2 separate regions of the Homo sapiens genome follow, and region 2 is linked to region 1. The links come from fine-mapping of genetic effects on gene expression. A gene starts in region 1. The other region holds a variant in brackets. All regions are shown on one strand. Distances are between the middles of the regions. Region 1 holds the start of SRGN (serglycin). Region 2 has its middle 29 kb from the start of SRGN.

Region 1 (8,000 bases):
CTTCTAGTTCTAGAAATCAAAAATTCATGCAAGGGCCGTCCTTCAAGCCTCTAGAGACATACAGATTTGGTGCAGTATCTATTTACTGGTTTTTGTTTGTTTGTTTGTTTGTTTTGTTTTTTTGGTGCAGTGCCCAGTTCAGAGTCAAGACCCTCTCAATGAAGAGCCAAGCAAAAGTCCTAGAGGCTGCTGGTGGCGGAATCTTTAACCTGGAGCTTTAGGAAAGAAATAGGCCTTGGAGCTTCCCCTTTGTGCAGTTTCATGGTGCCCTCTGTATCTCTTCTCATAACCTCAATTTATCATTTTTTTTTTCTTTTTTTGAGATGGAGTCTTGCTCTGTCACCCAAGCTGGAGTGCAATGGCATGATCTCTGCTCACTGCAACCTCTGCCTCCCAGGTTCAAGCAATTCTCCTGCCTCAGCCTCCTGAGTAGCTGGTATTAGAGGTGCCCGCCATCATGTCCAGATAATTTTTTTGTATTTTTAGTAGAGACAGGGTTTCACCATGTTATCCAGGCTAGTCTCAAACTCCTGACCTTAGGTGAGTGATCCGCCCACCTTGGCCTCCCAAAGTGCTGGTGTGAGCCACCCTGCCCTGCCGGCGACCCGTCACTTTATTAAACAACAGGAACTGATTTCTGTCATGTTCCAGGTGACTGTTAAGGAATAAGAATACTCATTTTATGGGCAAATAAACTGAATGTGAAGTAAAGTAGGTGCATCTCAGGTTGCCTGGTGAAAGAAGGATTAAGTCTGGTATAGGGTTTGTCTTTTAAAATTGTGGAAAACATGCATATCGTAGATTGACTTTTAGGGAAAGATGTGGGTCCTATTGGGTTAATGGCGGAATCTTTTGGTAAGATCATGCCCAGCCCTGAGGACTGTTGCCAATGCCTCCCTCACCACGTGTGCCATGTGCTCTTGAGGACATCCTGTCATTGGCTTCCCACACCATCATTACATCTGGAACAAAGGACGCATAAAAAGTGAGTGGCCCAGCGTGGCTCAGCTGGTAAGTGAAGGGCATGGGCTTGGACCCAGGACTTCCAGCTGCTGCAGCATGTGTCCTGCTCCCCTACAGCTTGAAGAGGGCTAAATGAGACTGGAGGACTTCTTAGAAAAAGAGACTTGATTATCAGCGTAGTGGGAGAAGAGCAAATGCTTATGAATACTGCACCTGTGCTTTAAAAGTCACCATGAGCTGGGCGTTGTGGCTTACGTCTGTAATCCCAGCACTTTGGGAGGCCGAGACAGGTGGATCACTTGAGGTCAGGAGTTCGAGGGCAGCTTGGCCAACATGACAAAAACCCCATCTGTACTAAAAAAAAGAAAAGAAAAGAAAAGAAAAGAAAGAAAGAAAAAAAATTAGTCAAATGCGTTTGCTTGAACCCAGGAGGTGGAGGTACACCCTGGGCGACAGAGAGAGAGAGGTAAAAAACAACAACAACACCATGACCCAGAGAAAGAAAGAAAAAAAATGAAGTTCCCAAATGGAAAAAGCCCCTAAAATTACCATTTTAAAACACAGCCCTAATCAGCTCTGGGGATTTGCAGGAAACTCATCGAAGCTATTGATAGGAACTATTGTTTTGGTGCCAGGGTTTTCAATTGGGAGTTAGATTTAAAAGGACCAAAGATGACATCTGATATTTCAAACAGAAACCGACATTTCTCAGTGGAAAACTTTCCGGGCCAGTGCATTTTGGGGTTGGTTACTGTGCTTGGAGACGCCCCTGAGTTGGAGGACACACTTCTGGCTGATGTGAGGGGCTTCTGAGGAGGGCCAAAATGTACACTCTTTGTGTTCTTGCACCACGGCTATTAGACTGTGAGACTCTGTCCTTAGCAGGAAATGGTAAAGGAATCAGCAGGAAGCCTAAAACAAGGGAAGGGAAACTCCTCCCTCCTATCAAAGGCCAGGCAAGGGCGAGGATGAGAATGGAAAGTGGGGCACGTGCATTAAGCCGTCTGGGGGAGCGGTAGGGATAGACATGTTGAAATGGAGAGTGGTTGAATCTTGAAAGGAAGTAAGGAAAATGTATATGCCACAAGGGCAAGGATGTATGATAGGCTTGTATTTATTGTATAACTTTATTTTATTTTATTTTATTATTTTTAGTTTTTTGAAATAGAGTCTCTCTCTGTCACCCAGGCTGGAGTGCAATGGCACGATCTTGGCTCACTGCAACCTCTGCCTCCCGGGTTCAAGCGATTCTCCTACCCCAGCCTCCCGAGTAGCTGGGACTACAGGCACTCGCCACCACGCCCGGCTAATTTTTTGTATTTTTAGTGGAGACGGGGTTTCACGGTGTTAGCCAGGATGGTCTCGATCTCCTGACCTTGTGATCCACCCACCTCAGCCTCCCAAAGTGCTGGGATTACAGGTGTGGACCACAGCACCTGGCCTTTATTGTATAACTTTAATATGGAGCCTTAGTCCTCCAGAAATCTGCACCATGCCCAGGGAAAATGCTGTTCCTTTATTTACATGAGGCAGAGGTTTGTGTTGTTTGCTGAGGTCCAGCAGCTCACTGTGAGGACAACCTCTCCCTCGTTCCTGATTTCTGGCTTATTCAAGGCCAGAGGACCCAAAACTCGAGTTGAAAATTTTGACTAGGAGAACAGATAAAAATAGAAATGGAATCCATCTTAAGAAATGCTCAATGTGAAGGAGAGGGGAATGCAAAATAGTTTTTCTGTTTTACCACAGTCTTTGTAACTGAAAATCCTATGTTCTTGAGATAGAGAGAGAGCCAATGATCCAATGCAAGAAACTGAGTTTAAGAAGAAACTGTTTGCTGGGCACGGTGGCTCACGCCTGTAATCCCAGCACTTTGGGAGGCTGAGGCAGGCGGATGGCCTGAGGTTGGGAGTTTGAGGCCAGCCTGGCCAACATGGTGACACGTCGTCTCTACTAAAAATACAAAATTAGTCCAGCGCAGTGGTGTACGCCTGTAATCCCAGCTACTCAGGAGGCTGAGGCAGGAGAATTGCTTGAACCCTGGAGATGGAGGTTGCAGTGAGCTGAGATCGCGCCACTGCTCTCCAGCCTGGGTGACAGAGTGAGACTCCATCTCAAAAAAAAAAAAAAAAAAAAAAAAAAGAAGAAAAAGAAGAAGAAGAAACTGTTCATCTGAAATCCGACAACTCATTCTTGAAGGTTAGAGCTCAGCTTTGAAGTTTCACTTCACGAGCTTGGCTCAGTGAGGTATGTTACTCCCCGGTGAAAAAGAAAATGAAGAGAATGTTTTATGTTGAAAGTGCTTGGTGACGAAAAGGCAGCACCTAGATCCCTTATCTCATAAAAAATGCAGCAGATTCTTAATATTAGCAATCTAGTGTTTAGATTGTTACCTGAAGAAAGGAAAAACAAACTGTCCCAAATGCTGATTCTACTGTTTCGGTGGGAAAAAAAAATGTCTTGCAGGCAAGTGGCAAACAACAAAACTTTTGAAAAAGCAGGCCTGGGGGGAGTCCAGTACAGTTTCATAATGGGTATGAATAGTTATTTTACTGTGTTCCCCCCACCCCCTTTCTTTCTGGGTTTTGATGTGGATGTCTTTCTATTTGTTCAGGAAATTGTGACGTGTGTTCTGGGCAGGGTTTGAGGTTTTGGAACATTTTCTAAAAGGGACAGAGAGCACCCTGCTACATTTCCTAATCAAGAAGTTGGCGTGCAGCTGGGAGAGCTAGACTAAGTTGGTCATGATGCAGAAGCTACTCAAATGCAGTCGGCTTGTCCTGGCTCTTGCCCTCATCCTGGTTCTGGAATCCTCAGTTCAAGGTAAGACTCAGGAGTCTTGTTCCCCAGCCATCTTCTCTGTAAGCCCTGTGGTCCATGCAAGTCATTATATTCATTTTAAGGCATAGAATGTATAATATTGTGAGAAAGGAGGCAAAGAAGAAGGATTTGGGGTCGCTGAACCCTTTAATATGAGTTCTGTTAAGTTTGGTACCAAGAAAAATTAAACTCTGTGGCGTGTGCAGTCTTGTAAACTCTTACAATGATTGAAATGTGCTATTTTGGGATGAAAATGTGAGGTTTATAAATTTTAAAAGCTCAAAAAAGGAATCTAGAAAATGACTCCTGTGCCTGTTGCATGGAGGAGATGGCACCTTTGACTGTTGGGGGGTGTCTGCCTACCCCTAAGTGTCTACATCAGCCCCAAGTTTTAGTGCGCTGTGACGGTGTCATTGTTATTTTAACACTGGGAGACGTTATATTCCAATTGGGGTGAATCTGACTGTGTGTATTTTCTTTTCTTTTTTTTTTTTTTAAAGATAAACTTGGTTCTTACTGAAAACTCAATTATGGTTAGACATAGTTCATGTAAAACCTCTCAGATTTTAAAGAGAAGGCCAAATAATTTGGTATTTGTGCTCTTGCTCAGAGAAGCATCATATTCGGAAATATCTTCCTAGGTTTATCTACCATTTAGTGTTGTTTAGTCAGACTGAAACAACTTAAAACCTGTAATGACTAAGACAATGAAAATGATAGGCTTGTAAGAAAAATACAATTTGTTATTCTTTGGCAAATAAGGAATCATGTCTAAATAAGACGGAGGTCATGGCTTGATAGAGAGATGGCTGAACCTATAGTAGAAAAACACTAGGTTCCGCCAAATGGTAAGGGAAATGTTGAGTCACAATGACACACATGTCCTAGATTTGTTTCGTCAAAGCGACTTTTGGTTGTCATGATCTTACTTCCGGTGGAGATGAAATCTTACAGATGATCGCAGAGACATTCATTTTATGTTGGAAATTTATAAAATCATTTTCTTCTAGTTATGCTAATGCTGAAAAAAGAGCAAGTAATGTTTCTGGAACGTTATTAATTTATGTATTTTTAAAATATAAAACATTGTCAATTGTAGGGAACAGGCTTCACTGGGATCTTTTAGGGAATATCTTCAGCTTGATGAAATAATTCCCGAATAGCCAAGTGGTCTGACAAGATCGAGAGTAATGAGGCCCATACTTTAGTACAGTCTTGAATGGCCAGATGGTGCTGGGCATACCCCAACCAGAGATATGTAAGTCTTTATGTTGTCAAAATTTCCCAGAAACATGAATTTCCCACTAAGATTCATTAAGGAAAACTAGAATGAAAACAAAAACGTTCCTTGTATAATATTCATTAGAAAGAAATGAAGAAGGCCGGGCATGGTGGCTCACGCCTGTAATCCCAGCACTTTGAGAGGCCAAGGTAGGCAGATCATGAGGTCAGGAGTTTGAGACCAGCCTGGCCAACATAGTGAAATCCCGTCTCTACCAAAAATACAAAAAAATTAGCCGGGCATGGTGGCACACACCTGTCATCCCAGCTACTCAGGAGGCTGAGGCAGGAGAATTGCTTGAACCTGGGAGGTGGAGGTTGCAGTGAGCTGAGATTGCACCACTGTACTACAGCCTAGGTGACAGTGCAAGACTCTGTCAGAAAGAAAGAAAGAGAGAGAGAGAGAAAGAAAGGAAAGAAAGAAAGAGAAGGAAAGAAAATAATTCATCATGAAATTGTATAGAATACTAGCATTTATGTCATGACCTCGTAGGTTTAGCTCTTTGTTAGAAAAGGAAACCATAGAAAGAGACAAGGGAGAAACTGACAAACTAGGGTGTTTCCGAAAAAAGGCTCTCAGTATCGGGCTCAAGGGCTTGTGCCCACATCTGAGCATGCAGGGAAATAGATGTCCCCCACTGGCTGCACATGTGAGTGACTGCGGCACAAGGCTGTGATGTGAAGAGTCGTGACACCATTTCCTCACACCTCCACGCAATGCCAGATATGATTCGACAACATTCTTCCTGTCTTATAAAAAGTGTTTATCTAGCCCGTTGGTTTGGCAGATGAAATCAACTAGGCTTTTGGCTTGCTTTTACTGAGCATATTCAAAACCATTTCAGGTCACTATAGTGGTTTGCTCGGGTTGCCATAACAAAGTACCACGGACTGAGTGGCTTAAATAACAGAAATGTATTTCCTCACAGTTCTGGAGATGGGAGTCCAAGATCAAGGTGCTGGCAGGGTCGATCGCATTCTGAGGCCTCTCTCCTTGGCTTATAGATGGCGCCTTCTCCCTTGTCTGCACATGGCCTTTCCTCCATGCATCCGTGTCTTAATACCATCTTCTTAGAGGGTCACCAGGCATTGGATCAGGGCCACCCTAATGGCCTCATCTTAACTACCTATATCTGCAATGACCCTATTTCTGAACAATTTCACATTGTGAGATTCTGTGGGTTAGAACTGGAACATATGAATTTGGTGGTGGTATATTTTTATTATAAGTCAAACCCAAGTAAAGATGTGGGGTAAGATTGTGTTTACCAAGCACAAAGAAATGGAAATTTGGGGATGTGTAACTCTGGAGAGCACAGATGACTAATCTATTTAATGTAGGGCTCCAGGGGATTTGATGAGGCCTGTGAATCTTCCACTTTTATTGCCTCTCTTTTCCAATGACACCCATAAAGAAAAAAAATGGAATATCCATGAACAGGTGCAGCCAAGGAGGCCAGGCCCGCCATGTGTCCACTGTATACTGTCTCCTAGCTCACAGGAATGATACTGATCCACTCCTTGTGCTGCTCTTTGTAAAGTGATTTCACATCCATTCTCTGGTAATCATCATCACATTCCCTGTGATGAGGAATTAGCACCAATTATAGAGGAGAAAACTGGATCTGACATTTCTCATCTCATTTGCTCTATACATTAACCTCTTGCAAAAAATTTGTGAGTCTTGCCCAAGACCCATTACAACTAATTAACGGCTGAACTGGTCGTCTGATTTCAAGGCCAGAATTAACTTTCTACTGCAGCTCATGGATCAGAGGTTTTCTTTATTTAAACAAACAAACAAAAAATCCTTTGACCGTAGCCCTTGCTATAACGTTTCCCACTGAGTTGAGGGAGAAATTGAAAGTAAACTTAGGAGCTTTTTATAGCTTGTCAAACCATGCAAGAGTGGGGGAAGCTTATCCATCTTGTGGAATTGATAGACCAGGAGGAAGTAACTCCGGCTTAGATAATGCTACCATTTTGAATAAATCAAATGGTCTTCTTTTCCCCTTCATGGTAGTTGCTGCTTAAGTTTCTCTAACATGCCTGCAGTAAGTTTCCATTAAGAATAGGAAATTAGGCTCGGTACAGTGGCTCACGTCTGTAGTCTTAGCACTTTGGGAGACCGAGGAGTGTGGATCACTTGAGGTCAGGAGTTCAAGACCAGCCTGGCCAACATGGTGAAACCCCCATCTCTACTAAAAATACAAAAATTAGCCAGGCATAGTGGCATGCACCTGTAATCCCAGCTACTCGAGAGGCTGAGGCAGGAGAATCACTTGAACCAGGGAGATGGAGGTTGCAGTGAGCCAAGATCATGCCACTGCACTCCAGCCTGGGCGATAGACTGAGACTCTGTCTCAAAAAAAAAAAAAAAAAAAAAAAAAAAAAGAAAAAGAAAAGAAAAGAAAAAAAAAAGAAATTAGTATATTGTGATTATGTTGAGGGAAAAGTTAGTACCATAATATAAAAAGGTATGGACTATTGGAGAAAGTTGTTTGCTTTGGTAACATTTACTCATAGAAAGTATTTTGGTAAAGCAGGACTCAGGGTGGTGGGGGAGGTGGGCAGTGAGGGATAGGATTCAAATAAAAACCATTCTTTCCCTTGGAATCCACTACACAATTAACCAACAAATCCCATAAGTGGACCTTTTAGGAAGATAACATTTCTATCCATGAGCATAGCCACTATAATCACAAGACATTTATCTCAAGCAAGATAGAGTCAAGATACTCTCACAACCTCAGGGGCTGGAACTGTAAATTTTCACATCCTGCCAACACCCTTGAATAGCTATGTCAAGAATTTAGTGTCTGTAACTTGTTCTTTATTTTAAAGTACATTTAACATCATCGGCCCCAAATTAGATAGGCTTTTGGAGTGGGATCCCTTCTACTTTTGATTTCTTTATAAAATTTTAAAATAGCTTTGTT
Region 2 (9,468 bases), 29 kb before region 1:
ACTGTGTCACCCAGGTTGGAGTGCAGTGGCGCAATCTCAGCTCACTGCAACCTCCACCCACCAAGCTCAAGCAATTCTTTTTTTTTTTTTTTTTTTTGAGATGGAGTCTGGCTCCGTTGCCCAGTCTGGAGTGCAGTGGCGCAATCGCGGCTCACTGCAAGCTTCGCCTCCTGGGTTCACATCATTCTCCTGCCTCAGCCTCCTGAGTAGCTGGGACTACAGGTGCCCGCCACCACGCCCGGCTAACTTTTTATACTTTTAGTAGAGATGGGGTTTCACTGTGTTAGTCAGAATGGTCTCGATCTCCTGACTTCATGATTCCCCCGCCTCGGCCTTCCAGAGTGCTGGGATTACAGGCGTGAGCCACCAAGCCCAGCCTCAAGCGATTCTTGTGCTTCAGCTAGCTGGGATTACAGACAAGCACCACCACACCTGGCTACTTTTTGTATTTTTAGTAGAGACAGGGTTTTGCCATGTGAGCCAAGCTGGTCTCGAACTCCTGGCCTCCTGTGATCCACCCACCTCAGCCTCCCGAAGTGCTGGGATTACAGGCATGAGCCACCACGCCTGGCCCAGTGTCTGATTCTTCATTCAGCCCCCACTTGGGTTCCCCTGTGGTTGCAGGCTTGGTTCATCTGCGCATGCTCAGGTTTTGTGACCCGAGGGTCTGAGGCAACTGGGAAACAACTCACATCTTTGTTACATAAAAGCTCATTCTCAGTAAACTATCGCAAGAACAAAAAACCAAACACCGTATATTCTCACTCATAGGTGGGAATTGAACAATGAGATCACATGGACACAGGAAGGGGAATATCACACTCTGGGGACTGTGGTGGGGTGGGGGGAGGGGGGAGGGATAGCATTGGGAGATATACCTAATGCTAGATGACGAGTTAGTGGGTGCAGCGCACCAGCATGGCACATGTATACATATGTAACTAACCTGCACATTGTGCACATGTACCCTAAAACTTAAAGTATAAAAAAAAAAAAAAAAAAAAAAGCTGAACCAGATTGGTCTGATGCAGTTACAGTGGCTCCGCAGAGAGCATTCAAAAGAATTGATGAACTTGAATGGGAATAAATGACACCTTAATTTTCATGAACCTCCAACTGAAATTGAGTGTTTTCTTCCGTTATGAATGTAAATGTCAAACCACAGCAGTGTCAACAGTACCTGTGACTTTGTCACCCTAGAAATCAGATCTTCTCATATCATTTTATGGTTGTTGTGGGTATCTTGAAATATGATTTAAGCTCATCTGCACTTAAAAAGTAAGATGATTATTAGATTCCTCCTAGATTTTGTTATTTAATGCATTAATGAAGATGCACATATATCACCATATCACAAATTTTACAATATTTTTGGCTACTGGCATTCAACATAATTGTTTCAATAGAAATCCTATGTATCTTAGATTTTTTTCTTTTCTTTTTTTTTTGAGACGGAGTCTCGCTCTGTCGCCCAGGCTGGAGTGCAGTGGCATGATTTTGGCTCACTGCAACCTCTGCCTCCTGGGTTCATGCCATTCTCCTGCTTCAGCTTCCCAAGTAGCTGAGACTACAGTTGCCCGCCACCACACCTGGCTAATTTTTTGTATTTTTAGTAGAGATGGGGTTTCACCGTGTTAGCCAGGATGGTCTCAATCTCCTGACCTCGTGATCCACCCACCTCGGCCTCTCAAAGTGCTGGGATTACAGGCGTGAGCCACTGCACCCGGCTATGTTAGATGTATTTTAAGACAGCATTCTGAGAAGGGGGTCTGTAGGCTGGCCAGATGGCCAAAAGGGCCCCTGATCAAAGCAAAGATCTTCGGAAGGTAAAGAACATTCAGAGGAGGCTCCTTGTCCCCAGAGAAGGCAGAGTGGTATGTAGTGGACACAGTAACTCCCTCTCTCTTCCTGTGTGGCCTGCAGGCAAAGGTCACACCGCTCACGGTCAGGGCTGTCTCACTTCCGTTTGGGGTGAGAGCACCCCCTCACTTACTCGTTTCTCATTTTTTGGCAGAAGTGCCCCTTGGCCTCCCATGGCAGCCCTGGGGGAGGGCAATAGGGCTTTTTTCCAGCCTTGTTAACCCAAGGGGGAGGGGGCAACCCAAACAGTGAGGGAATGAGAAGAGCTTGGACTGGAGGAGAGCAGTTGTTCCTTGAGCCTCGACAGGTAGATGCTGACCGCCAGCTCCTTGCTGCCCCTCACAATTCCTTCCTGCCCTGATTGCTAGTGTTCCCGCCAGAGGAGGGACCTGGGAGACCCACTGATGCCTGCTGGCGCTCCTTTAGAGCCCTTCTGCAGCTCGGCAGACGCTTGGCCCCTGTGATCCAAGCCTGCCCCAGGCACAGTCCCCCACCCTCAGGGAGCTCACAGTCTGGCCAGGGGATCTGAGCCAAGAACTCAGAGTAGGAAGAGGTTTGCAGCTGGGGCCTGGTACAGGTGTGTAGAGCAAACCAGAAACAAATGGGTTAACTTCAGATGATGTTTCTACTCTCTCACACCCACCCTGGGTTGTCTGGTGCGTGGCTGAGCTGAGTCTTAAAGGCTAGATAGAGTCTTAGCTGCCCAACTCACAGCAGTACCCTTTGGATCCACCTGCCCCTGTGGGTGGGCACACATGCTGTGTGGGGCGTGCACAACAGTGACCAGTTGGCGAGAGGTGGTGGTGTCACCACAGGGGAACTTGACCTCCTGGCCCAGCAGCCTAAAACAGAGGTTGATTAAAGCAAAAAGAATCATAGTTGTGGATGGCTGGAGACCTGGGTGTCTGAGGAGATGTCTGAGGTGCGAGTGAGAGGTGCCTGAAGTAAACGACAGACCCAGGAAGTGTCTGCCGTGCTGCTCGGAGCCACGGAACAGGGCCCTTAGACTGGATCTTTTTTCCCTTGGAGTCCGGGAACTCTTTCAGCCCTCTGGCGAAAGCTGCAGAACCATCTCCTCAGGAAAATACACATGTATCATCCAAATTCTGTACCCCATTGTAGAGGTTCTCTTCCCCATGTTTGGAGGAGGAAGAGGCAAAGTTAGAGAGGTGGATGAATTTCCCACGATCGACGGCTCGGCAGCAGGGGGGCAGCAGAGCCAGGACCTCAGGTCCCTGGCAGGTTTAGTGTGCCACGCTTTCCCTTCCCCTTATTGTCTCCCTGGAGAGGAGGAAGTGGGCTGGGGCCGGCGGGAGCCCACATGCACTTCCAGTTCCACACCATGCTGGGGGAAACTAACTGGTAGATAAATAAACACGGGACAGCGCAGGTACAAAAGGCGGCAGAGGCCTTGGGTCCACCCCAGTTCTCACCCTCTCCCTGACTTCTTGATTCCAGTGCAAAAGATCAGCAGCTCTTCTCCCTGAGGCCTAACCTGTGACTTCCTCCTCCTGGGGAAGGTAGAAAGACTTGTCTTCTGGCCTGTTCTCTAAGACCTCCCTTTTCAAGCAATGGAAGCATTCAGAACTTTAACAAGAACCAACCACAGTGACCCCACAGTGTCTGTCCTCGCTGAAATCTGAAAGCAAAGTGGTCAGAGTCGTTTGTGCCCAGGCTTCCTGGAAGTGGTGTCTTCTCAGCACGAGTCGAGCAGCCCAGGACAGACTCTTCTCCCTGACTCCTCTTGGCTTTAGAGGAGAGACTGCTGGTGACAAAAGGAACCTACTGGAAATAAGTGGAGGATCACCCACAGTCTCCCAGCTGCCTCCACCTACAGATAAGGAGGAAAGGGTGGGGAATGTGCTTCTAGTGAGCTGAATCCCAGCCTGGACTCAGGGCTGATCCCCATCCCCAAAGGGCTCAGAAGTGATTCAGGCTGCAGGCATCCCAAGTTGAGGTTCAAGAGAGTTATGCCCAGGAGCCCTGGATTTTCTGAGTTGGTATTCATTTCATATATGTGGTTACCCTTTTGTTGTTGGGTCTCGGTTACTGATTTGAAAAAATTTGTCATTATTAAGGGTCTAGGGCACAGTCCTGGGGTGCCTGGTATGGGCAGGAGTTAGTGGTTTCCTTGCGAGTATATGGCTTTGAGAGTTCTGTCCCCAGCCTTCCCTGTTGCGGCTACACTGGTTTCTGTTAATATCACTTCACTGTGGACTTCACTATCATTCTTCTCTGTTTTCTGTTTTCCTTCTTGCCCAACTTTAGCAACCACCAAAGGGATGCCAACTCCTCGTACCTGCCTCCAATTTTTATTTCATGGTCAAATTTTACTAATTTGGAGCAAACACACGGACCAAATAGTGAAGAGTTTGTTCTTTTAAGTTTTCTTAAGTCATTAAGAGATACTCCCCAGCCAGGCATGGTGGCTCATACCTGTAATCCTAACACTTTGGGAGGCTGAGGCAGGAGGATCGCTTGAGCCCAGGAGTTTGAGACCAGCCTGGGCAACATGTCAAAAACCCATCTCTAAAAAAAAAAAAAAGAAATTAGCTGGGTGTGGTGGTGCATACCCGTAGTCTCAGCTATTTGGGAGGCTGAGGTGGGAGGATCACTTGAGTCCTGGGGCTGTGATCATGCCCCTGCACTCCAGCCTGGGGAACAGAATGAGACCCTGTCTCAAAAAAATAAAAAAAAAATAATAAATAAAATAAAGAAACTCCACCTTGGCCGGGCGCACTGGCTCACACCTGTAATCCCAGCACTTTGGGAGGCTGAGGCAGGCGGATCACCTGAGGTCAGGAGTTCAAGACCAGCCTGGCCAACATGGCGAAACGCCATCTCTACTAAAACATACAAAAATTAGCTGGGCACGGTGGTAGAACCTGTAATCCCAGCTACTCAGGAGGCTGAGGCAGGAGAATCACTTGAAGCTGGGAGGCAGAGATTACAGTGAGCTGAGATCGTGCCACTGCACTCCAGCCTGGGTGACAGAGCGAGACATCTCAAAAAAAAAAAAAAAAAAAGCCCCATTTTGATCTTTGCACAATTCATTTGCCCTATCTGAGGAGTATGCTAACTAAAGGTAAATTTCAGCTGCATCCCTGCCAAGAGGAGCAAGAATTTCCTGAGTCTTGGGTTATATCGGGGGACTCCTTTTCCACATAATTCTCCTGGTTTATAAGTGCCTCTGAAATAAAAAATAAAGATGAAGTGGGAGCTGCCACCACCTATTTTCATTTTATTATTACTATTATTATTATTATTATGTTTGAGACAAGGTCTCACTCTGTCACCCATGTTGGAGTACAATGGCATGACCATAGCTCACTGCAGCCTGGAACTCCTAGGCTCAAGTGATCCTCCCACCCTGGCCTTCCAAAGTGTTGGCATTACAGGTGTGAGCCACTGCGCCCAGCCCCATGGCCTCTTTTTTTTTTTTTTTTTATGTGAGACAGAGTCTCTTGTTGCCCAGGCTGAAGTGCAATGGCGCAATCTTGGCTCACTGCAACCTCTGCCTCCTGGTTTCAAGCAATTCTCCCGCCTCAGCCTCCCAAGTAGCTGAGACTACAGGCACCTGTCACTACGCGCGGCTAATTTTTTTGTATTTTAGTAGAGATAGGGTTTCACCATGTTGGTCAAACTGGTCTTGAACTCCTGACCTCAGGTGGTCCGCCCACCTCAGCCTCCCAAAGTGCTGGGATTACAGGCGTGAGCCACCGCGCCCAGTCCCATGGCCTTTTTTTAATACCCAAGAAAGCTCAGGGATAATAACACACCATGCCTCTTGAAATTGCCACAGAAAGAAAATGGAAAGCCACTTTTAAAAATAAAAAGGCTCAGGCCGGGCACGGTGGCTCACGCCTGTAATCCCAGCATTTTGGGAGTCCGAGGCGGGCAGATCACGAGGTCAGGAGATTGAGACCATCTTGGCTAACACGGTGAAACCCCGTCTCTACAAAAAAATACAAAAAATTAG[C/T]CGGGTGTGGTGGCACGCACCTGTAGTCCCAGCTGCTGAGGAGGCTGAGGCAGGAGAATCGCTTGAACCCGAGAGGTGGAGGTTGCAGTTAGCCAAGGTCGCGCCATTGTACTCCACCCTGGGCAACAAAGAGCAAGACTCCATCTCAAAATAAATAAATAAATAAATAAATAAATAAATAAATAAATAATAAAAAGGCTCAAGCCTGTAATTGCAACATTTTGGGAGGCTGAGGTGGGCAAACTGCTTGATCCAGGAGTTCGAGACCAGTCTGGGCAACATTGTGAGACCCTGTCTCTAGAAAAAATTAAATTAAAATATTAGCCAGGTGTATTGCTGGCATGTGTCTGCAGTCCCAGCTTCTTAAGAGGCTGAGGTGGGAGGCTCACTTGAGCTCAGGAGGTCCAGGCTGCAATGAAGTGCGATTGCACCACTGCACTCCAGCCTGGGCAACACAGCAAGATCCTGCCTCAAAAAAAAAAAAGAAAGGAAAATGAAAAAGAAAAGGCTGTGTGGGTTGGCATGCACTTGAAATCCCAGCTAATTGGGAGGATGAGGCAGGAAGACAGTTTGAGCCCAGGAGTAAAACCAGCCTGGGCAACATCATGAGACCCTGTCTCAAATAAAATAAAACAAAATGAAAAAAAAAAAAACAAGACACATTTTAAATCTTCAATAATCTTTAAAAATATGACTTTTAAGATTCTTGGTTAATGCAATAGAAAATTCAGTGATCCCCACCTTTTCTTTCTTTTTTTTTTTTTTTTGAGAATGGGGTCTCACTATATTGCCCAGGCAGGTTTTGAACTCCTGGGCTCAAGCTATCCTCCAGCCCTCTTTTTAATACAAATAAGCAACTCATCCTTAATAATAGTTTGCTTGAAGACAAGGCATCTTTTTTTTTTTTTTTGAGATGGAGTCTTGCTCTGTTGCCCAGGCTGGAGTGCAGTGGCATGATCTCAGCTCACTGCAGCCTCTGCCTCCCAGGTTCAAGCAATTCTTCTACCTCAGCCTCCTTAGTAGCTGGGATTACAGGTGCCCGCCACAACGCCTGGCTAAGTTTTGTATTTTTAATAGAGATGGCGTTTCACCATGTTGACCAGGCTGGTTTCAAACTCCTGACCTCAGGTGATCCGCTCTCCTCAGCCTCCCAAAGTGCTGGGATTACAGGCATGAGCCACTGCGCACAGTCTACAAGGCATCTTTCAAAAGCAAACATGTTATTCCTCACACACCTTCTGAAGATTAAACATGGGATGGACACTACTGATGTGTGGTGGGCTTTGTATGGCTCACTAAGTGGGAGGAATTTTTTTAATATCCTATGTCATAACTCTCAAAGAATGTGTTAAAGCCAACCCAGGAAATTTCTTAGGAACAGAGGTCAACTTGACGGTTGCAGTATTTCTCGGACTTGCGGCTGATGACAAGGCACAGCAGCCTGGGAATTACACAATCTCCGCTCTTACGCATTTCTTAATCATTCACTGGATACAGTTGCATGAATACTTTCTGTTCCTGTTCGAGTTTAGTAAAAATAGCAAAATAGAAGCGTCTATGGGGTTAGGAGAGGAAAAACACTCTAGCAGCAAATTCTGTTCCATTCGACCCAACGTACACGATAGTGATCAGAGGACGTCTCTGGAGAGCGTGTTTTCCTTTTGACCTTGTGTACTTCCTGTACTTCGCTGCCTCTGTGAGCGTGCTGCTCAGGCAGGGCTCTGGGTCCTCAGCAGCACCGAGGCAGCAGAAACACCAGGTATCCGGTGCCCACCACACCAGCAACTTCTGCAGGTCACTGCTGATCCCCACCAGGTCTGACGGGCGGCTGCTCCTCCTGCATTTCACAGATGATTGAAGGAGGCTCCCCAAGGAAGCTGTCCTGGTCAGGTGGTTACAGGTGGCAGAGCAGGTGTGATAGCCCCAGGGCTGTCTGGCTCCAGAGCCTGTCCTTTCTCAACCCTACCACCCTACTTTACGACTTTACCTCCACTTGTTTTTCTTGCCAAAAACTTTTAGCACTACAGGAGAAAGAAGGCCTAGCTTCAGGGCGCTCACAGTCTAGTGAAGGAGAAAAGATGAATATTTAAAAAGCATTTTCTTCTCTGTGCAATGAGGAGCCTGGCACTCTGTGCAATGAGGAGCCTGGCATTCAATTAGAATTAGGGATTCTAACTGAAGCATCAAACCAGATTAGCTCAATGCAGGATGTTGGAACAGAGCACTGTGGGAATTCTGCTTACTGTCAGAGTTTGTATATGGGTAGCCAGGCATGGGGAGGAGGTGGGAAACAGTGAAAGCTGGAGGGACCAGGATTCATACCCCAGAGTGATGGATAAGGTGTAGACAGTATAACAGCAACCTCGATAGCTTGTATTGATTTTGGACTTGCCAAAGCCAGGTTTGAAGTGCTTTCTAGGTTTTGATGCTTTGAATCCACCCTGTAAACCTTAAAGTAGGTACTATTACTCTGTCCATTTCCACGTGAATAGTGGAGACATAGGGAGGTTAGGGAAATTGTCCAGGCCCCCCAGCTAGTAAGTGGCCAGTACTCGAACATAGGCGGGCTGACTCCAAGCCCAAGTTCTTGATCACTGTACAAAGTAGAGGATAAGTTGGCAAATACTCTAATAGATTTTGCCATTATGCTTGTCAAATTTGTAATTATTTGCCTACTGTCTGTTTTCTCCTCTAACCTATGTCTCCAAGAGGGCAGGAACTATGTCTGTCTGGCTCTCAGAGGTAATTTCAGCACCTAGACTAGTGACTGGCACATAGAAGGGTCTCAAAAGTTTCGAAGAATGGATGAAATGCATTGAGGGAAACAGAGGATTCCTTTCCACGAGCAGTCCCCACCCTCTGAGTCCGCCATTCAAGAGCTGACGAATATGAGCAAACTCACTTCTCTCCCTCCCTTGTCATCAGCAAAATGGGGTTGATAACAGAAGTGAAGCTCCAGAAAATGGTCTGGAAGTTCCTAAAAAGTTAAAAAATAGAGTCACCATAGGACTCAGCAATTCCACTCCTGGGTGTTTACCCAGGAGAATTGAGAATACAGTTATGTCCACACAAAAACTTATGCAAGGATGTTCATAGCAGCATTATCCGTGATAGCCAAAAAGTGGAAACAACTCAAATGCCCATCCACAGGTGAGTGCATAAACAAAACCAAGGAGATCCATGCAAGCACATATTTGGTCACAAAAAGAGCGAAGTGCTGAGACATGCAACAATATGAGTAAACCTCAAAAACATTATGCTAAGTAAAGAAGCTGGTCACAAAAGGCCACAAAATGTATGGTTCCATTTACATGAAATGCTCAGAACAGACATGTCCATGGAGGCAAAAAGTAGATTCGTGGTGGACAGGAGCTGGGTGGAGGGAGGAATGGGGAATGAAGAGTATCTTTTTGGAGTGATGAGAATGTTCTGGAATTAGATAGTGATGATGGTTATGAATATACTAAAAACCACTTAGTTGGAGACAGAACTGGGTTCAATCCTGGCTGCCCCCCGGCTTGGTGTATGAGCTGGGGCAAGTTACTCCATTTTGGGATCCTCAGTTTCCTTATCTGTAGGAAGAGACCCTGATCCATTTTGATCCTCATCACCCTATTCACTCCTTCTCC

Evidence for each region.
Region 2: its variant is fine-mapped to the expression of SRGN in whole blood (TOPMed, PIP above 0.99).

The regions. Positions count from the first base shown.
Region 1 is chr10:69,084,454-69,092,453 of GRCh38, forward strand. SRGN (serglycin) reads left to right here and starts at 3,650. Exons shown (of 3, transcript NM_002727.4): 1 at 3,650-3,783. The coding sequence starts at 3,705. RefSeq lists enhancers at 1,964-2,133, 3,781-4,980 and a silencer at 5,679-5,858.
Region 2 is chr10:69,054,316-69,063,783 of GRCh38, forward strand. No RefSeq gene overlaps it. Among named protein-coding and RNA genes, the nearest start is that of SRGN, 29 kb to the right of the region's middle. RefSeq lists a silencer at 547-596 and enhancers at 2,256-2,405, 2,616-2,795, 3,206-3,405, 7,354-7,473. The variant C/T (reference allele first, on the strand shown) is at 5,840.